3 separate regions of the Homo sapiens genome follow, and regions 2 and 3 are each linked to region 1. Evidence: fine-mapped expression QTL. A gene starts in region 1. Each other region holds a variant in brackets. All regions are shown on one strand. Distances are from middle to middle.

Region 1 (6,897 bases):
CTGGGGTCAGGGCAGACTCGGGACTCTGGAATCGCCAACAAGACAGTGGGGTTTAAAGATCCTGAGACAGTGAAGGCATCAGAGAGGGTGAAGCCTGGAGGGCCGGGTTCAGAAAGTAGGGTTCAGAGGGCAGGGCCGGAAGAACAGACAGAGACCAGGCCATGTGTGTGACCAGTAAGGCAGGCAGGGAGCAGATCCTGGGGCCTAGAAGCCCCCTGAGGATCAAGGATGGCACAGGCCCCTTGCCAAACGCTGCCGAGACCAAGCAAGGTGGCCCAAGCCCCACAGGCACAGACATGGGACCCTCAAGGCCCCCAACAGGAACCCACCTAATGATCACACAGTCCAGGAAGTCTGTTAGGCGGCCGTTCTGGGTGATGTAGGAGAAGTCAGGGAAGCGTCGCTAGGAAGGATGTGGGGGTTTCAGGTTGCACAGTGGTCTCCAGGCAGCATCTGGGGCCACCCATGCCCCAGGGAGGGGCCCCCAGGAAGGGGGGTTCTATGTGCAGACTCAGGCTGGGCACTCCCATCCCGCAGGTGGCACCAGGACCCCTGGCTGCTCACAGCATCCGGAGGGGCCGAGGTTACCCCCAACCTCACTGACAGATGTGAGCTGGAAGCTGAGCCCAGGGTCTCACGGAGTCCAGCCTACAGGACCCCGGGGCTGGGGCTCAGCGCCAGCACAGGGGGACCCCACCATGCAGGGGCTCACCTCGGCCAGGCCCACCCATCCCTGCTCCCCACAGGGTGCAGCCATCCAAGCACAACCACTGCTGCCCACCACCCCACTGTCCCGGCTCTGAGGCCCAGGGTCCAGCTGTGGATGGCCGGCTCTCCCAGCCTCTGGGCCTCCTGCCCAAGGGACTCACGTCGTCATTGAAGCCCATGTGCATTCCACAGTCCAGCATGACATTCTTGCCCGCAATGGAGACCAGGATGCAGCTTCGGCCCACGTCCTGGCCGGCCCCTACTCGAGGGAGGGCAGATGAGTCACTGCTGCGCCCCCCGCCCCCTGTGCTGCCTCCCCAAGCTCTGCAGGACCCCAGTGCACTGAGGAAACCGGACCAAGTCTGCTGTGTGGACAGACACATGGGCCAAGAAGCAGGGCCACCCCTACTCACAGGAAGGGGGACACAGGGGACCATGCCCCACACCATCATGTCCAGGGTGGAGGCTGGCAGCCCACACGCCCTCCCCCGCCAGCTTCCCCTGGCCTCTTAAGGTGGCCACGGCCTGCTGGCTAAGTAGTGGGCACTGTGCTGTGGCCCTCAGCCTCCAACAGAGACAACGGCTGGTCTGTGGGGCCAACACCTCGGTCAGAGTCACTCCTGGGCTGTGGCTGGACCCCCAGCAGAGCTGCAAACCAATGAGGCCACCTTCTCCAGGATCTTTCCCCAGGCAGGCAAGGCAGTAAGTGACTAAGTGCTGGCACTGGGTGTTCTCTGGTGGTGCGGCTGTGGAGGGGCGCCACACAGCCTCAGCCATGCCATAGCGAACACGGTGCCAGTGGTCCAGCAGTGGCCAGCGTGGCAACACGAGCCTCACACCACTGCACACCATGCAGCCCCCAACACAGACCCTCATCTGCAGCCCTCCCACACTCCTGACAGCCAAGCAGCCCTGCCCAGCTGCTCCAGCCAGAGGCCTTGGCCAGCCAAGGCACACTCAGCCCCCTCATGTGGCCTGGGGGCCCGAGAGGAAAGGGTCACGGCCCCTGCACAGACTGTGCCTGGGCAGGAGTCTGATGGCAGTGAACAGTTTTCCCCTTGAATCCCACCCACCTCCCCCTGCCAGCCACTCGAAGTGTCCAAAGCCAGCACCACACATCAGGATGACGGGGCCACAGCCGAGGGGCTGCCTGCCACAGAGAGGGGATCTCAGGTTCTCTTCCAGGCCTGTTCCTGCCCCCGCTGGGTGTGAGCTCTCTGAGAGCAGGGTCTCAGCTGTCTCCTCCCTCTGCATCTCCTACCCCAAGCCACGCCAGGCTCACAGAGGCCCTCTGGCACCTGTGGGAAGGGAGGGCCGCCCCTCTTCATGCCCAGGGACCTAAGGCCACAGAGGCACTTGTGGCACACGGCCCCGAGGCATGGGGCCCGGGCTGGTTTTCTGAATTCCAAAGCCCAGTCCTGAAGTACTGGCAGTCCCGCCTCCCGACAGGACCCACAGTGATCCCAGGAAGGAAAGTGGAAAGGTGCGGGAATAGAGCCTGGAGATACACGAGGGGACAGGGCTCAGAAGACAGGAGGAGATATCCCTGTCAGCAAGGAGACAGACGGCAGACAAACAAGACACCCAAAGCACGCCAGACGAAGGTTACTATGACAGAAAAGAGCAAGGTGAGAGAATGAGGAAGCCTCAAAACTTCCAGAACCATGACAGGAGACTGCTCCGAGAAGCCAACTTTTGAGCAGGGGAGGGGAGGGGTAGGGTGGGGGAGGGGGAGGGACGGGGTGGGGAAGGGATGGTCCAGGGGAGGAGAAGAAGCGGGGCGGGCGGAGGGAGGACAGGCAGCAGGGAGGGACAGGCAGGGGGGAGGGAAGGGACCAGCAGGGGGAGGGACGGGCAGGGTGGGTGGGGGGACCGGCGGTGGGGAGGGATGGGCAGGGTGGGTAGGGGGACCGGCGGCGGGGGGGGTAGCCACACACAGGCCAAGGCGTGGGAGTGACCCCAAGGACACAGCAGTGGTCCAGTGAGCGCGGACACGGAGCCCGAGGCAGTCCCTGGTGCAGGGAAGCGGTGAAACAGGACTTCGGCTTTGATGATACCTTGGCTGAGGTGACCTTGAGAATATACCCAGGTACAGATTGCGGGTAATTGAAGCCACATGAAAGATCAGAAAGATCAGATGTCCAGAGAGTGGGCAGAACAGGCAGCCAAGAGGCCAAATGGGAAAGGGGCAGGCTGGGAGGACCCCACGGAGGACCCAGAGAGCAGGGGAGGGCAGTGGGGCCCATGCAAACAGCTGCAAAATGCCATGGGGTGTGCACAGGCCAGGGGTGTTCACAGCACAGTGTCCACACCGGGGCGGGGGGCACCCTCCGAGGAAGCGCTCACGCCATGGGGGAGGACATGGAATCCCGTCCTGGTGTCTGTGCTGGAAGGTGCCCTCGACCCCCTGCCCGGTGGAAGGACCAGGTTCCAGGACAGCACAGGGCAGGCACCTGTGGAAAACGCTAAGGACATCAGGATGACTGGCCACCAACACCATGTCCCTCCAGCTGTTTCTGAGACCCTGGATTTTGACTAATTTTTTCCTTCTTCACATCGTTCTATACTGTTACGACTTTGACTTTCTTTTGAGACATGGTTTTGCTGTCACCCAGGCTGGAGTGCAGTGGCACAATCATGGCTCACTGCAGCCTCAACCTCCTGGGCTCAAGCAATCCTCACAACTCAGCCTCCCAAGTAGCTTGAACCACAGGCACACACCACCACGCCCTGCCAATTTTAGCATTTTTTTTTTTTGGAGTGATGGGGTCTTGCCATGTTGGCTAGGTTGGTCTTGAACTCCTGGGCTCAAGCGATCCTCCCACCTCTGCCTTCCAAAGTGCTGTGATTGCAGGCGTGAGCCACAGTGCCCAGACTGTCAGGACTTTTAGGAGTACATATTTGCGTTTTTTGCTATTTTTTTCAGTGTTGCAGAAATCAGGTAGAACAAGAGCTAAAGTGAGAGTTGATTGTAACTCGGGCGTGAGCACACAGAGTGGTGGACAGAAAGCAAGACGTGAGGAGGCAGAAGCGGGGCTGGGGGGCTGAGGGGCTTGCGGGGTTAAGGGGCTTGGGGGCTGGGGGACTGGGGGGCTGAGGGGCTGGGGGGCTGAGGGTCTGGGGGTCTGCTGGGCTGAGGGGCTGGGGGACTGAGGGGCTGGGGGACTGAGGGTCTGCTGGGCTGAGGGTCTGGGGGACTGGAGCGCTGGGGGGCTGGGGGGCTGAGGGACTGAGGGGCTGAGGGGCTGGGAGGCTGAGAGGCTGGGGAGCTGGGGGGCTGAGGGTCTGCGGGGCTGAGGGGCTGGGGGGCTGGGGGGCTGAGGGGCTGGGGGGCTGAGGGGCTGGGAGGCTGAGAGGCTGGGGAGCTGGGGGGCTGAGGGTCTGCGGGGCTGAGGGGCTAAGGGACTGAAGGGCTGGTAGGGCTGGAGGCGGCAGCGCGCGGCACGGGGAGGTCAAGGCACCGACGAAAGCGCACAGCGAGCGCGAAGGCCCCGCGGCCCCATCTGCGACGTCCCCTCACGGCCGCCTGAACCTCGGGGCTCGCGTTCTCGCGTCACTGCCGGAGGCCCGGGGTGCAGGGACTAGGCCGCCTCTCGGCTCCCACCAGGGCCCGCGCGGGGAGGAGACCGGAGGACGCCCGCGGCGCGCACCTGGCTCCACGAGAAACGGGAGGGAGCGGGGCGCCCAGCCCGCCCGGAGCCGCATACGGAGCCCACCCCACAGCCCTCCCGGCGGCTCCCACTCACCCAAGGGCGTGACTCTGATCTCAGGCATCGTCTCCGCCGCGCTCCCGGACCCGCGAGGCCCGCCTGCGGTGATGCACTGCGCAGGCGCAACCACCTCGCTGCAACTTCCGGTGCGCTAGCCGGAAACGCGGGTCGGGGCGCCGGGCCTCCTGATTGGGCAGCATCCAACCAATCAGGGCGGCGGGCGAGGGCGGGGCGAGGGCGGGGCGGTGGGCGGGGACGGGGCCCGCACGGCGGCTACGGCCTAGGTGAGCGGCTCGGACTCGGCGGCCGCACCTGCCCAACCCAACCCGCACGGTCCGGAAGTCGCCGAGGGGCCGGGAGCGGGAGGGGACGTCGTCCTAGAGGGCCGGAGCGGGCGGGCGGCCGAGGACCCGGCTCCCGCGCAGGACGGAGCCGTGGCTCAGGTCGGCCCCTCCCCAACACCACCCCGGGCCTCCGCCCCTTCCTGGGCCTCTCGGTGGAGCAGGGACCCGAACCGGTGCCCATCCAGTCCGGTGCCATCTGAAGCCCCCTTCCCAGGTGAGACTCGTAGCGCTCGCTCGACAGGGTCTGGTCCCACCCACAAGGCCTGGGGCGCCGTGGGGCCCCGTCTCCTGCTGGCCCCCCAGCCTGCTGTCAGCCCCCGTGCTCTGTGCTCAGGCCGCCCTCGCGCCCGGCCCTGACCTTGGGCCGTTGGGCTGCCCTGGGAAAGGCCTGGAGGTGTCCTGGGTCACCTTCCTGGGCTGGCAAGCTGCCTGCCTCCTGCACAGCCACTGCCCTTCCTGTTGTTACCGAGCCACCAGCCACAGCTCTGAGAAGCTCCTGGCAGCTTCTGTTTGCCACTGGCTCGAATCTGGGCAGGAAGGCAAGGCCCGCAGAATATCTGGTGACCAAGAAGGAAACCCCAGAGCCTCAGAGACCATCTTCTCAGTGGACAAAATTAAGGCCCGAGGAGGGGAGGGGCGTGCTGGAAGTCTATGGGACTGCATCTTTCTGAGGCCCAGGAGCAGCCATCCCCCACACCTGAAGCCCGGTGAGCTCACATCTGGGGCCTCCGCCTGGTGCCAAGCATGCAACCCAACCTGTGGGGCCTGCAACGCCAGGCTTCAGCACCCTGCAGGCACCAGTGCTCCAGCAGCCTGGGCCACGGGCTGGGCAGGGCTTGCAGCCCATGATCCCTAGTGATGAAGGGCCCAGTCCTAGGGTGCTGAGCAACCTGCCCACCTGCTCCTGGCCAGGAGCTCTCACCACGGCTGGGTGCCCTTCCCCCTCCCCCACCGATGGAGTCCCTGCAGCCAGGGAGGCCAGGACAGGGCTCCCAGCACCAACCGGCCTAGGAACCCCCAGGCCCTCTTCCTGGTCGAGGTGGAATGCAGCTGACTCTCAGGTTCCCCAGAGCAGGTGCGGGCCCGTGGGGCACCCGGGGAGACAGGGCAAGGGTGCTTGGCAACACTCACACAAAGCATGGGTGCCTGGATGTCTGTGGATCTGTGGAGTGACTATGTGAATGCCAGCAGAATCCAAAGCAGGGCCTGGGCCACTCGTGGAAGGCTCCCTAGGGCTAGTACAAGAGCCTCGTGGCAATCTTCTGAGTGGTAAAACCCATCTGTGTGGGACATGGAGTTTCAGCAACAGGAGTGAAAACACGTGTCCATCCATCCAGCAAGTGCCAGCCCTACAGCCTCTTTTCTGCTTTTGGGGATGTAGCAGTGAGGAAGATGGGGCAGCCTGCCCGGCAGCATCCCCCCACCCCCGGCCCCACCTGTCTCTGCTTTCTGCTGTGTCTGTTTTCTTGTCTAGGACTTCAGAACTTCCTGTCTTTGTTGTCATCTGACCCCACCCCAGATGGCTGCTCGCACTCCCCATGCACCCAGATAGATGGCTAGGATGGTGCTTGGCTCTCGGCAGGGGCTTAGTATTTCTCCAGCTGGTAAAAGCAGATACAGCATCTAGAGAGAGAAACAAAAACAAGAAAGCACCAGCAGAGACACCTGCTGCAGACAGCGGGGCCTAGTGGTCTGATAAAGCCAGAGGGGGCCACTCTCGGGGTCAGGGACTGACACGGAGTCAGTGGCCTGATCCACAGGAGGGGCTGTGCCAAGGTCCCTGAATGCGCAATCCTGATGAAGGGTGGGTCAGGGTGGTGTGCCTGAGAGCCTGCGGCTTGGCTGGGAGCAGAGCCAGGCAGCTCCTGGGAGGAAGCTCCATGAGGGGCATGAGTGTTCAGTGAGCGGCAATGGGATCGCAGCTATTTTGTTCCCCTCCACACACAGAAAATGAGCCACAGAGCAAGCTGACCCCAGCGACACAGCCCCCCAGCCCTACTGTATTTCCGTTCCTATCAAAAAATGGATGACTCGGAGACAGGTTTCAATCTGAAAGTCGTCCTGGTCAGTTTCAAGCAGTGTCTCGATGAGAAGGAAGAGGTCTTGCTGGACCCCTACATTGCCAGCTGGAAGGG
Region 2 (6,897 bases), 31 kb after region 1:
GGGCCTGGACCGGGCAGGAGCGACGGGGGGAGTGAGGAGGGGGCCTGGACGGGGCAGGAGCGACGGGGGGAGTGAGGAGGGGGCCTGGACGGGGCAGGAGCGACGGGGGGAGTGAGGAGGGGGCCTGGACGGGGCTGGAGCGACGGGGGGAGTGAGGAGGGGGCCTGGACGGGGCAGGAGCGACGGGGGGAGTGAGGAGGGGGCCTGGACGGGGCAGGAGCGACGGGGGGAGTGAGGAGGGGGCCTGGACCGGGCAGGAGCGACGGGGGGAGTGAGGAGGGGGCCTGGACGGGGCAGGAGCGACGGGGGGAGTGAGGAGGGGGCCTGGACGGGGCAGGAGCGACGGGGGGAGTGAGGAGGGGGCCTGGACGGGGCAGGAGCGACGGGGGGAGTGAGGAGGGGGCCTGGACGGGGCTGGAGCGATGGGGAAGAGAGTGCGGTGGGGTCCCTTGGTTCCCGTCCCCAGGAAGCCGGCGAGATGGAACTGGCATCTATCGGGCCCTGACCGTGCTGGGGGCTGCACCGGCTCGGAAAGAAACCGATCAGTGCAGGCACCAGTGCTTGACGGTCAGCTTGGGCCTGGGATCCTGACCCTGCACCCGGGCTCTGAGAGGGAGAACTGTGGCGTTTGCTCAGCCAAGCCCGGACAGCTTAGCCGCCAGCCCCCTCCACCTTCCCGCAGCCCTTCTCTTCCCCAGAGGTCAGAAGCCAGGCAGGAAGACCTAAGAGGGGCTATCTGTTGAGGCCCCAGGGAGGGAGGAAGCCTGTCCCTGCCCTGAGGGCCTGACCCCAGGCTAGGTCTCAAGAGAGGCTGGAAGCCAGAGGCCTGAGGCCAGTCCCGTTGCTGACGCGGATGTGGTCCAGCTGGGGCCCTGACAGGTGTGGCCACTGGTGAGGCCAGAGGTAACCGGGCTGGGAGGGGGGTGCATCTTCAAGCCACACCTCCCCAGACCAGCCTCCCTCCCTCCCCATCCATGCTTGTGTGGGGTCCTTGTGGGCAACTGTCACCCTTTCCCACCCCCACTGTCCTGGGAGGACTGGAGGATGGGGTTGGGTGGTGACGCCAGCTTCAAGAAGCAGCAGTTAGTCGCTGGTCTGTGCTGCCAGGACCCCGGGCCACGGGCCTTCCTGCTCCCGCCACTCCTCCCACCGCCTGAACTTGTGCTGAGATCCTGCACCCAACCAGCTGATGCCTGAGCGGGAAAGGATTCTAGGGCCAGATCCGTGCTGGCCTGGCCAAGACTCTTGGAACCACCCTGCTGTCCCGGGCTGTCTCTGCTGGAGCCTCTTTGCTCCCGCCCCCTTTGCAAGTGTCTGACCCGCATCCCACTACTCCCGCTCCTCGTCCCTCTGCCTCTCCAAGAGCTGTGCTCCCACGGCCTTCCCTCTGGCCTCACAGCCACCACCACGTCCCCCCTCCTCACGTCCAGGTCAGCCCTCAAGGGAATCTGAACTCCTCCACGACCAGAAGCCACACAGAACTAGCTCAAAGGTCCCCTTCCCAGGACACCGACTCCCAGAGGACCCAGACCCAGACCTTTCAGCCCAAGGAATGGGATGATGTCAGGGGTTCCAGGTGGAGACGAGGACTCCCAGGCCCAGACTCATGCCTTGCCCAGCCCCAGGAGACGGAGTTTCAGAAGCATACCTGGGACAAGTCTAAAAATCAGATGGGGACTTTATTGTGATGGTGGCAGGTCCACCAGCAGATGCAAATGTGGGGTGCTGAGAGTGGCAACACAGGCCACCCCAAACCAACTTCACTCCCTCCCCTGTCCTCAGCCAGTACAGAAGCCAAATGTAGCCCCAGCCCTAGACTCCAGCCCAGGCAGAGTCCAAGGGAGGGGTGTCAGGGTCAGAAGTCACAGGGAGCCCAGTGACTATCAAGGTGGCTGAGAGCAAGGCTAGGGTAGGGATGGGGCAGAGAAAGGGCAAGGGGTGCAGCCCCAGGTGGCCCAAAGCAACACAGAGGAGCAAGGGCTGGCATTCAAGTCAGCAGGTCCCTGGGGAGAACAGATGGTGCCTGGAGTCCCACATGGTGGTACAGGTGGGGGAGCTCT[C/T]GGTGGCAGGCAGCACCCCAGGAGGAGTGGGACTCCTGCCGAGGCTGACCCCAACTTCAAGGCTGCCAAGTTCTGATGGGAGTGTCCTCCTCCAGGAACATCTCCCAGCCCCCGACGAGCAGAGCCCTGGAGGAGTGGGACTCCTGCCCTGAGGCTGACCCCAGTTTTGGGGCTGCCAGGTTCTGATGGGAGTGTCCTCCAGGAATGTCTTCAGGCCCCCAGCGGGCAGAGCCCAGAAGGGTCTGAGGGCATGATGGGCATCAGTGGGATTTTGGTTGTGCCAGGGGTGGGCAGGGCCACCCGTGAGCAAAGGCCGCAGGGGTGGGGGCTATGCTGCCACCAAGCCCCTGGGAGAGGGGTGTGGAGGCGGCCTCTGCATACGCCCAGGCCAAATTCCAGGAAAGCGGGACCAGCCGCTGGAAGGGGGGTGAGCCCCGGAGCATCAGGAGATGCCCCGAGGAGCACAGACAGGAGAGGTGCAGCTGCTGGCCCAGCCAGGAGCCCAGGGCCTCCCTATTTGCAGTTCTCCTTCCGGAACCCTGGAAGCCAAGGGCGCCAACGGGTTGGCGGCTGTCCTCCACCCTCATCACAGTGGGAGACACAGGGCAGACCCCCCCGCAGGACTCCCCAGGGATTTCTGAGCCTGAGGTGGCAGGGGCCCCGGGCCTGGCTGGTGCCTGCCATCGTTGGTCCCAGGTGAGGTGGAATGGGGACAGGCAGGGCTCTGAGATGGGCTGAGGTCGCCCCCGCCGCTCACCTTTGTCTAGGTCGATGTACTTGGCAGGCAGGGGGCTGTGGGCCAGCTCCGCCCTCTCCTTCAGGATGTTGTTTTTGTAATCTGTGGGAGGAGAGGAGGCTGAGGTCCCCGCTCCCAGGATGCACTTCCCAGCCCGGGACTGGGAGCCGCGCCTGTGCCCTCGTGTCCCAGCACTGCCTCACCTAGCTGGATGTCCTCACTCCTGTAAAGCATCTGGTCCCCTGCAGCCACAGCGAACTCCGCCAAGTTAACATCCTTCCTGGATGGCGAGGGTGGGAGGAGGTTACAGCTGGGTGGGGTGAAGGGGGCCCTGGTCCCCAGGAGGGCCGGGAGGGGGGCACTCACCCCTTTGACTTTCCCGACTTCTGGTCCGAGTATTCGTAGCCTGGGAAGGAGACTCACATTGGGGGCAGTGCCGCCCCTTCCGCAGGTCCCCCAGCCCAGAGGACCACCCTCCCGCCCACCTCAGTCTCCTGGGGCCGCTGGCTTTGCCGGGGCAGCCTCACCTCCGCGGCGCCTGCGGGCGGCCAGGAGGACAGTGACCAGTAGCAGGATGAAGAGCAGCAGCGTGGCCAGCACGTAGCCCAGCTGCTGGAAGAAGTGGGCTCGGCTCTCGGGGACGATGACATTGATGACGTTGTGGCCGCGCGCCAGTGTGGGGTCTGCGGGGAACGCGGGGTCGGGGCGGCGTCAGGTACCAGCAAGACCTGCGCCCCGACCCGGGCCACGGCCCCCGCTGGGATCCGCGGGCCTCGGGCAAGGGACAGCGGGCGCAGAGCAACCCCCGGTGGGGTGGGCTCCCGCCTTCCCGGGTCCCAGGGAGGCCTCCTTCACCTGGGCCTGGGGCGCCGCTGTGGCTGGAGCCGTTGCCCGGAGAGCCCCGGGGGGGCGGCTCCGCGTGGGGTTCGGCGACCGTCAGGTGGAAGACGCGGCGTTCGTGCAGGCCACAGTAATGGTGGTGCAGGTGGCAGGAGTAGGTGCCCTCGTCGGCGACCTCCAGCGGCTCGATACGCAGTGAGAAGTCACCGCGCTCAAAGGCATCCGCGCCCACAGCCACGCGGTCGCGCAGAAAAAGGGGCCCGTAGGCGCGGCGCTCGCCCGACGCGTAGAGGTCCAGCAGGCGGTCCGCGCGGTCGTGCGGGACCCCGGGCGGCTGCCGGTCCCAGTGCACCACCTGTTGAGCCTCCTCCACGTGCCGGTCGGTCCACACGTGCCCGCGGTTCACGCAGGTCAGAAGCGCGGGTGCGCCGCGCGCCACCGCCAGCACCTCCTTCTCGCCGTCCCAGTAGGCGGGGGTGGCCGGGGCTGCGGAGGGGGCGCGGTCAGCGGCGCGCGGGCCGGGGCGGCGGTCGAGGGTCGAGGGGCGGGAGCTGGGGGGCGGGGGGGAAGCACTCACGGCCGTCGGTGACCTCCAGGCGGACGGCCAGGCTCTCGTAGAGGTGGCAGTAGTGATGGTGCAGGTTGCAGGTGTACAGCCCCGCGTCCGTCTCCTCCACCGCTGCGCACCCAGGAGGAAGCCGCGCGTGAGCCTTGCGGTGCCCCCGACCCCGCGGCCCCGGACCCCTGCCCCGACCCCGCGGCCCCGGTCCCCGGTCCCCGCACCGCGGATGAGCAGCGAGAAGTTGCCGTCGTCGAAGGCCGAGGCCGAGAGCTCCAGGCGGCCGCGGTCCCGCGCCTCGTACACGCGCTGCTCGCCCGCCGAGTACAAGTCCAGCAGGCGCCGCGCGGGGCCACCCCCGGGGCCGCGCAGGTCCCAGTGGAGCACGCGCTGGCGGTCGTGCAGCCGGTCCTGGGTCCACACCATGCGCGGGCTCTGGCAGCGCAGCACCGCCCGGGCGCCCGCCTCCCAGCTCACCGCGGACTCGGACACCACGGAGCTGCCAGCAGCGGCGGGTACCGAGGACCCTGGTGGGGGAGGGGAGTCGGTGGGGGAAGGGGTGGGCCCCCTAGGGCCCTGGTTGGGGGAGTCAGTGGGGGAGGGGCAGGGCCCTGGTGGGGGAGGGATGTCTGTAAGGGACGGGCAGGACCAGAGGGCCCTGGTGGTGGAGGGGAAGTCCGTGGGGTGGGGCAGACCCCCGAGGGCCTGGATAGGGGAGGGGGAGTCACTGGGGGAGGGGCGGACCCTGATGGTCCTGATGGGGGAGGGTGAATCAGTGGGGGAGGGGCGGGCTCTGAGGACCCTGGTGGAGGAGGAGGAGTAACTGGGGGAGGGGTGTGCCCCAAGGACTCTGGCGGGGTTGGGGGCATCTTTGGGGGGGTGTGGGCCCCTGAGGCCCCTCGTGGTGGGGGAGATTCCATGGGGGAGGGGCATGCCCCCTAGGGCCCATGTGGGGGAAGGGGAATCATTGGGGGAGTGGTGGACCCCCGAGGGCCCTGGCAGGGGAGGGGGAGTCCATGGGGGAGGGCAAGTCAGTCGGGGAGACATGGGGCCCAAGGACCCTAGTGGGGGATGGGGAGTCCATGGGGGAGTGGTGGGCCCCGAGGGCCCTGGTGGGGAAGGGGACTCAGTAGGGGAGGGGCAGACCCCGAAGGCCCTGGTTGGGGAAGGGGAGTCAGTGGGGGCATCTGTGGGGGAGGGGTGGGCCCCCGAGGGCCCTGGTGGGTGTGCGGGAGTCTGTGGGGGAGGGCCAGGCCCCCAAGGGCCCTGGTAGGGGAAGAGGAGTCATTGGGGGAGGGGGAGTTATTGGCAAGGGGAGGTGCCCAAGGGTCCTGATGAGCAAGGGGGAATCAGTGGGGGAGGGGCAGGGCCTGAGGACCCCCGGGGGCTGGGCCTGGCAAGATAGGAGGGGCTGAGGGGGAGTGGGGGTGGGCAGCTGGGGCTGGGGTCACTAACCTGAGTGCAGGAGAACAGCAGAGCCTGGAAGGAGAGGAGTGAGCTGGAGAGGCCACCCACAGCCCCACCCAGCCCCGAGACCCCCCACTTGGCCCCCAGAGTCCCTCCTGTAGTCCCAAAGTGGATGCTGTGACACCCACTTCAGTGCAGGGAGGACGCCTCTCACACAGACCTACATAGCCCTCCCTGCCACCGTGCTGGGCTTTGGATGGCACCTGCCCTTGAGTGGGGAAGCCAGGGCATGGGCGTGGGCCAGGGCCAGGCTCCAAGCCAGCCGGTTCTGGGGTGTGTGCTTGTCACCGGGGCCACTCCACCTGGCTGCACCCAAGTCACCCAGAGCACCAAGGAGGCTGGATCTGTGGGTTCCCCCACGCTCCCTCCAGGGCTGTGCCCCAGCCCCCGAGGGTCCTTGGACCCTCAGACGCTGGGGACCCCACACCACACCTAAGGCTCAGCGCAGCCCCTGAGGTGCTTCCGCAGGGCAGAGGCCTGAAGGCTGAATGTGGGTCGTGACCCCGGCTGCCGCCCCACAGGCCCGCGTTGCTGCTTGAGGGACTCTCATTGTCGTAGGCCGCCTCGGCATCCACTCTGAATCTAGGCTGGACTTTCTCTGACCGGAAGCGGGGCTGCCACCCGGGACAGTTTCCAATTCACATCCCCCGTCCTCGAGCTGATCCACCCAGACGCCCGCCCTACGCACTGTCCCCTGGTGACCACCCCCTGTGTCCCCACAGACCCCACGCCCCACATGGACTGTGCAGCTGCACCACGGAGTCCCCCCACAGTCAGCGTGGCCCCACGGGGCTCGTGCCGCTTGCCTTAAACCCACCAGTTAAAACTCCCCCACCAGGCATGGTGGCTCACGCCTGTAATCCCAGCACTTTGGGAGGCCAAGGCAGGTGGATCACCTGAGGTCAGGAATTCAAGACCAGCCTGGCCAATATGAAAAACCCCATCTGTACTAAAAATACAAAAAATTAGCCGGACGGGGTGGTAGTGGGCGCCTATAGTCCCAGCTACTTGGGAGGCCGAGGCAAGAAAATGACTTGAACCCGGGAGGTGGAGGTTGCAGTGAGCCGAGATCACGCCACTGCACTGCAGCCTCCTTGGCGAGAGAGAAACTGCCTCCAAAAAAATTCCCTGAGGGAAACCTGTATGCAGAACGCCCTGATCCCAATAAAGGGTTGGCCTGGGGGTCCCTGTCTCTCTCCACTTTCCCTGGCCTCCCAGCAGTCTGTGCACCCCAG
Region 3 (6,897 bases), 43 kb after region 1:
AGCTACTCCAAGGGCTGAGGCAGAAGAACTGCTTGAACCTGGGAGGCAAAGGTTGCAGTGAGCCGAGATTGTGCCATTGCACTCCAGCCTGGGCGACAGAGTGAGACTCGGTCTCAAAAACAAAACAAAAGGACAGGGTCTCACTGTGTCACCCAGGCTGAAGGGCAGTGGTGCAAACATCTTGGCCCACTGCAGCCTCAAATTCCTGGCCTCAAGCGATCCTCGGCCTCTCAAAGCAATGGGATTACAGGCGAGATCCATCAGTTTTTTCTTTTTTTTTTTTTGAGACAGAGTTTTGTTCTTTTGCTCAGGATGGAGAGCAGTGGTGCAATCTCAGAATCACCGCAACCTCTGCCTTCCAGTTTCAAGCTATTCTCCTGCCTCAGCCTCCCGAGTAGCTGGGATTACAGGTGCCCGCCACCACGCCTGGCTAATTTTTTTTTTTTTTTTTGAGATGGAGTCTCGATCTGTTGCCCAGGCTGGAGAGCAGTGGCGCAATCTCTGCTCACTGCAAGCTCCACCTTCTGGGTTCATGCCATTCTCCTGCCTCAGCCTCCCGAGTAGCTGGGACTACAGGCGCCCGCCACCACATCTGGCTAATTTTTTGTATTTTTTTTAGTAGAGACGGGGTTTCGCCGTGTTAGCCACGACGGTCTTGATCTCCTGACCTCATGATCCACCCGCCTCAGCCTCCCAAAGTGCTGGGATTACAAGCGTGAGCCACTGCACCCGGCTTTTTTTCTCTTTTTTTGAGATGAAGTCTCGTTCTGTCGCCCAGGCTGGAGTGCAGTGGCGCAATCTCGACTCACTGCAACCTCCGCCTCCCGGGTTCAAGCAGTTCTCCTGCCTCGGCCTCTGGAGTAGCTGGGATTACAGGTGTGCACCACCACACCCAGCTAATTTTTGTATTTTTAGTAGAGACAGGGTTTCACCATGTTGGTCAGGCTGGTCTCAAACTCCTGACCTTGTGATCCACCTGCCTCAGCCTCCCAAAGTGCTGGGATTACAGGCATGAGCCACCACGCCCGGCGAATTTTTGTATTTTTAGTACAGACGGGGTTTCAATGTGTTGGCCAGGCTAGTCTCGAACTGCTGACCTCGTGAGCCACCCACCTCGGCCTCCCAAAGTTCTGGGATTAGAGGTGTGAGACACCATGCCTGATCAATTTTAAAATCGGGAACAAAGAACACTGAGTGCTGCCAGTTACCTGCGGTGGCTCCACCTGCAGGGTCAGACTCCACCTCTGGGACTCTGCATCCGCCTCCCTTCCCGGCTGGGCACGTCTTAGGGCAGCTGTCACACCAGCCTCAGGCGAGGGCCAGGCCACGGCTGCCACATGGAATGCACATCCTGGATCCTCCGTGGTGGCTTCTCCCTCCTCACCAAGGGAGGTCGGCTGTTACATGTAACATTTCTACCTTGGTTATAATTACAAATTTGATGTACGCAATTATGATAGAAAAATCGGCTGGGTGCGGTGGCTCACTCCTATAATCCCAGCACTTTGGGAGGTGGAGGCAGGAGGTTTAAGCCCAGGATTATGGAGACCAGGCGGGACAATATAGCAAGACCCAGTCAAAAATAAAAAAATAAGGCCAGGCTCACCCCTATAATCCCAGCATTTTGGGAGGCCAAGGCAGGCAAATCACCTGAGGTCAGGAGTTCGAGACCAGTCTGGCCAACATGGTGAAACCCCCATCTCTACTAAAAATACAAAAATTAGCTGGGGATGGTGGCATATGCCTGTAATCCCACCTATTCAAGAGACTGAGGCAGGATAATCTCTTGAACCTAGGAGGCAGAGGTTGCAGTGAGCCAAGATCACACCACTGCACTCTAGCCTGGGTGACAGAGTGAGACTCTATATTAAAAAAAAAAAAGCCAGGCGTGGTGGCTCACCCCTGTAATCCCAGCACTTTGGGACACTGAGTGGGGGCGGATTACCTGAGGTCGAGAGTTCAAGACCAGCCTGGCCAACATGGAGAAATCCCATCTAAAAATACAAAAATTAGCCGGGTATGGTGGTGCACGCCTGTAATCCCAGCTACTCGGGAGGCTGAGGCAGGAGAATCGCTTGAACCTGGGAGATGGAGGTTGAGGTGAGCCAAGATTGCAGCATTGCACTCCAGCCTGGGGAACAAGAGTGAAACTCTGTCTCAAAAACAAAATAAAAAACAAAAATAAGGCTGGGCATGGTGGCTCATGCCTGTAATCCTACCACTTTGGGAGGCTGAGGTGGGCAGATGACCTGAGGTCGGGAGTTCAAGACCAGCCTGACCAACATGGAGAAACCCCAGCTCTACTAAAAATACAAAATTAGCCGGGCATGGTGGTGGGCACCTGAACTCCCAGCTACTCTGGAGGCTGAGGCAGGAGAATCACTTGAACCCAGGGGGCGGAGGTTGCGATGAGCTGAGATCGTGCCATTGTATTCAGCCTGGGCAACAAGAGCAAAACTCCCTCTCAAAAATAAATAAATAAATAAAAATAAAAATAAAAAAATTAGCTGGGCATGATGGTGCACGCCTGAAGTCCCAGCTACTCTGGAGGCTGAGGCAGGAGAATCGCCTGAACCCAGGAGGCAGAGGTTGCAGTGAGCTGAGATTGCACCATTGCACTCCAGCCTGGGTGACAAAGCAAGACTTTGTCTCAAAAAAAATAAATAAAAATAAAAATTAGGCCAGGTGTAGTGGTGCACACTTGTGATCCCAGCTAGGAAAGGCTGTGACAGGATGGCCTGAGCCTGGGAGGGGAGGACGAGTATGAGCGTGAGAATGATTGTGAAAGGATGACTATAAATTGAGTGTGAATTAGTGAATTGGTGAGTGTGAAGTAGTGCAGATGGGTGTGAATTCGTGAGACTGTGTGTGAATGAGTGTGGATGGGTGTGAACTGGTGATTGTGCATTTGTGAATTGGTGTGAATTGTGTGGTGTGGATGAGTGTAAACGGGTGTGTAAATTAGTGAATTGGTGAGTGTGAAGTGGTGTGGATGAGTGGATGGATGTGAATGGGTGAGAGAATGAATGAGTGGATGAGTGTGAACTGATGAGTGTGAATGGGCGAGTGTGAATGTGTGAATGGGCGAGTGTGAATGTAAATGAGTGTGAATGGATTGGTGTGCGTGAATGAGTGTGAACGAATGTGGATTGGTGTGTGTAAATGGGTGTGTGAATGTGTGAATGGGTGTGAATGAGTGGATTGGTGTGAATGGGTGAATGACTGGATTGGTGACTGTGAATGTGAATAAATGTGAATG[AGTGTGATTGAATGAGT/A]GTGAATTAGGGTGAATGGGCGAGTGTGAATGTGTGAATGAGTGGATTAGTGTGGATGGGTGTGAAAGGGTGAGTGAGTGAATTGATTAGTGAGGATTGGTGAGTGTGAATGTGGGTGAGTGTGGATGGGTGTGAAGGAATATGAATTAGTGTGAGAACGAGTGTGAAATGAGTGTAAATGAGTGGGAATTAGTGAATTGGTGTGAAGTGTGGATGAGTGTGGATGGGTGTTAATTGGTGAGTGTGAATGTGTGGATGGGTGAATTAAATTGGTGAGTGTAAATTGGTGTGTGTAGTGTGAATAAGCGTGTGGATGAGAGTAAACAGGTGACTGAGTGAATTGGTGTGAAGTAGTGTGGATGAGTGTTAATTGGTGACTGTGTTAAAGCGTGGGTGTGAATTGGTGTCTGAATGGATTGGTGAGTGTGAATTGGTGAGTTGGTGTGAATTGGTGAGTGTGAATTGGTGAGTGAATTGGTGAGTTGGTGTGAATTGAATTGTGTGAATGAGTGGATTGGTGAGTGAATTGGTGAGTTGAATTGGTGTGTGTAGTGGATGAGTGTGGATGAATGTGAATTGGCGAGTATGGATGTGTGAATTGGTGAGTGTGAATGTGTGGATTGGTGAGTGAATTGGTGAGTTGAATTGGTGTGTGTAGTGTGGATGAGTGTGAATTGGCGAGTGTGGATGAGTGTGAATTGGTGAGTGTGTGAATGTGGATTGGTGAGTGAACTGGTGAGTTGAATTGGTGTGTGTAGTGTGGATGAGTGTGGATGTGTGGATGAGTGTGAATTGGTGACTGTTGAGTGTGGATGTGTGAATTGGTGAGAGTGAATGTGTGAATTGGTGAGTGTGAATGTGTGGATTGGTGTGTGTAGTGCGAATGAGTGGATGAGTGAATTGGTGACTGTGTGGATGAGTGTGAATTGGTTGTGGATGTGTGAATTGAGTGAATTGGTGAGTTGAATTGTGTGTAGTGTGAATGAGTGGATGAGTGTGAATTGGTGACTGTTAGAGCGTGGATGAGTGTGACTTGGTGTATGAATGAGTGTGGATTGGCGAGTGTGAATGAGTGTGGATTGGTGAGTGAATTGGTGAGTTGAACTGGTGTGTGTAGTGTGGATGAGTGTGAATTGGTGAATGTCGATAGGTGTGAATTGTTGAGTGAGTGTATGAATGAGTGTGGATGGGTGTGGATTGGCACGTATGAATTGGTGAATGTGAACTGGTGAGTGTGAATTAGTGTAAATTCAGTTCAGTGGATCAGGAGCAACTTATTTTTTATTTATTTTTTGAGACGGGGTCTCACTCTGTCCCCCAGGCTGGAGTGCAGTGGCACCATCTCGGCTCACTGCAAGCTCCGCCTCCTGGGTTCACACCATTCTCCTGCCTCAGCCTCCCGAGTAGCTGGGACTACAGGCGCCTGCGACCACGCCTGGCTAATTTTTTGTATTTTTGGTAGAGATGGGGTTTCACCGTGTTAGGCAGGATGGTCTCGATCTCCTGACCTCATGATCCGCCCACCTCTGTGCCCCAAAGTACTAGGATTACCGGCGTGAGCCACCACGCCCGGTCTTTTTCATTTTTATTTTTGAGACAGTCTCACTCTGTTGCCCAGGCTGGAGTGCAGTGGTGCGATCTTGGCTCACTGCAGGTCAACCTCCCAGGCTCAAGTGATCCTCCTACCTCAGCCTTCTGAGTAGCTGGGACCATAGGTGGGCACAACCACACCTGGCTTTTTTTTTTTTTTTTTTTTTTTTTTTTTTTTTGTAGAGATGGGGTCTTGCTCCATTGCCTAGGCTGGCTTTGACCTACCAGGCTCAAGTAATGCACCTGTTTCAGCCTCCTGAAGTGCGGGATTACAGGCAGGAAGGTGCAGCAAGACTAGAATAGGCAATATCTCAGTTTATTGTACTTATGAGAGATACTATTCTGTACAACTTTCAATGGTGGGTGTGTTCATCAGATAGCGGTGTAAAAAGATATTTCTTATTTTGTATCTTGATCAAAAAAGTCTGAAAGTAGGCTGGGTGTGGTATCTCACACCTATAATCCCAACACTTTGGGAGGCCAAGGCAGGAGGATCATTTGAGGCCAGGAGTTTGAGACCAGGCTGGGCAACTTAGTGAGACTCCATCTCTGCTGGAAAAAAACATTAGCTGGGCCTGGTGGTGTATGCCTGTAGCCCCAGCTACTTGGGAGGCTGGCTTGAGCCCAGGAGTTACAGGCTGCAGTGAGCTATAATGGCACCACTGCACTGCAGCCTGGGCGACAGAGGGAGACCCTGCCTCTTAAAAAATAAAAATAGGTCTGGCTGGGCGTGGTGGCTCACGCCTGTAATCCCAGCACTTTGGGAGGCCGAGGCGGGCAGATCACCTGAGGTCAGGCATTTGAGACCAGCCTGGCCAACATGGTGAAACCCTGTCTCTAATAAAAACACAAAAATTAGCCGGGCGTGGTGGTGCATGCCTGTAGTCCCAGCTAGCAGGGAGGCTGAGGCAGGAGAATTGCTTGAACCTGGGAGGTGGAGGTTGCAGTGAGCTGAAATCGCGCCACCGCACTCCAGTCTCGGGACAGAGTGAGATACTGTCTCAAAAAAAAAAAAAAAAAGGTCTGAAAGTCACCAACTTTAAAACATGGTACTACCGCAAGAATCATTTAAAAGGACTAAAATTGCCTCTGGGAAAGGTGGTGTGGGGATGGGGGAAGAGATACTGTTTTCCTTTATTTTTGAGATGGAGTCTCACTCTATCCCTCAGGCTGGACTGCAGTGGTGCGATCTCGGCTCACTGCAAGCACCACCTCCCGGGTTCACGCCATTCTCATGCCTCAGCCTCCCGAGTAGCTGGGACTACAGCCGCCCATCACACCTGGCTAGTTTTTTGTATTTTTAGTAGAGATGGGGTTTCACCATGTTGTCCAGGATGGTCTCGATCTCCTGACCTCAGGTGATCCACCCACCTCGGCCTCCCAAAGTGCTGGGATTACAGGCGTGAGCCACCGCACCCAGCCAACTGTTTTTCTTAAAGGAATCTTTTTTCTTTTTGGAGACAGGGTCTCGCTCTGTCACCCAGGCTGGAGGGCACTAGCACAACGGCAGCTCACCGCAGCCTCGAACTCCTGGGTTCATGCATCCTGTCACCTCGGCCTCTGGAGTAGCTGGGACTACAGGTACACACCACCATGCCCAGCTGATTTTTTATTTTGTAAAGACAGGGTTTCACTATGTTGCCCAGGCTGCTCTTGGAGTCCTGGCTTCATGCGATGCTCCCAGCTCCCAAAGTGCTGGGATGACAGGCGTGAGCCACTGCGCCTGCTGGTGACTTCTTAAACAATTAAACTAGCCACGTACAAGCATAACTTTTTTTTTTTTTGAGACGAAGTCTTGCTCTGTCGCCCAGGCTGGAGTGCAGTGGCATGATCTCAGCTCACTGCAAGCTCCACCTCCAGGTTCACGCCATTCTCCTGCCTCAGCCTCCCGAGTAGCTGGGACTACAGGCGCCTGCGACCATGCCTGGCTAATTTTTTGTATTTTTAGTAGAGACGGGGTTTCACCATGTTAGCCAGGATGGTCTCGATGTCCTGACCTCGTGATCCGCCCGCCTCCGCCTCCCAAAGTTCT

The links. PIP is the estimated chance that this variant, and not a neighbour inherited with it, causes the effect.
Region 2: its variant is the best candidate, but not a certain one, in a credible set for the expression of INTS11 in tibial artery (GTEx, PIP 0.62).
Region 3: its variant is the best candidate, but not a certain one, in a credible set for the expression of INTS11 in whole blood (INTERVAL, PIP 0.72).

What each region holds. Positions count from the first base shown.
Region 1 is chr1:1,320,127-1,327,023 of GRCh38, forward strand. INTS11 (integrator complex subunit 11) reads right to left here and starts at 4,534. Exons shown (of 17, transcript NM_017871.6): 1 at 4,455-4,534; 2 at 870-967; 3 at 330-403. The coding sequence starts at 4,482. CPTP (ceramide-1-phosphate transfer protein) reads left to right here and starts at 4,676. Exons shown (of 3, transcript NM_001029885.2): 1 at 4,676-4,976; 2 at 6,710-6,897. The coding sequence starts at 6,785. RefSeq lists enhancers at 1,723-2,231, 2,995-3,504 and silencers at 4,323-4,452, 4,633-5,132.
Region 2 is chr1:1,351,031-1,357,927 of GRCh38, forward strand. It overlaps MXRA8 (matrix remodeling associated 8), which reads right to left. Exons shown (of 10, transcript NM_032348.4): 2 at 5,651-5,674; 3 at 4,420-4,722; 4 at 4,214-4,315; 5 at 3,652-4,122; 6 at 3,324-3,479; 7 at 3,163-3,202; 8 at 3,000-3,076; 9 at 2,818-2,898; 10 at 1,661-2,599. The coding sequence ends at 2,574. Among named protein-coding and RNA genes, the nearest start is that of MXRA8, 4.1 kb to the right of the region's middle. RefSeq lists enhancers at 2,467-3,098, 3,099-3,730, 3,731-4,361, 5,486-6,038, 6,626-6,897. The variant C/T (reference allele first, on the strand shown) is at 2,061.
Region 3 is chr1:1,363,168-1,370,064 of GRCh38, forward strand. It overlaps a transcript of MXRA8 not described here. Among named protein-coding and RNA genes, the nearest start is that of MXRA8, 8.1 kb to the left of the region's middle. The variant AGTGTGATTGAATGAGT/A (reference allele first, on the strand shown) is at 3,260.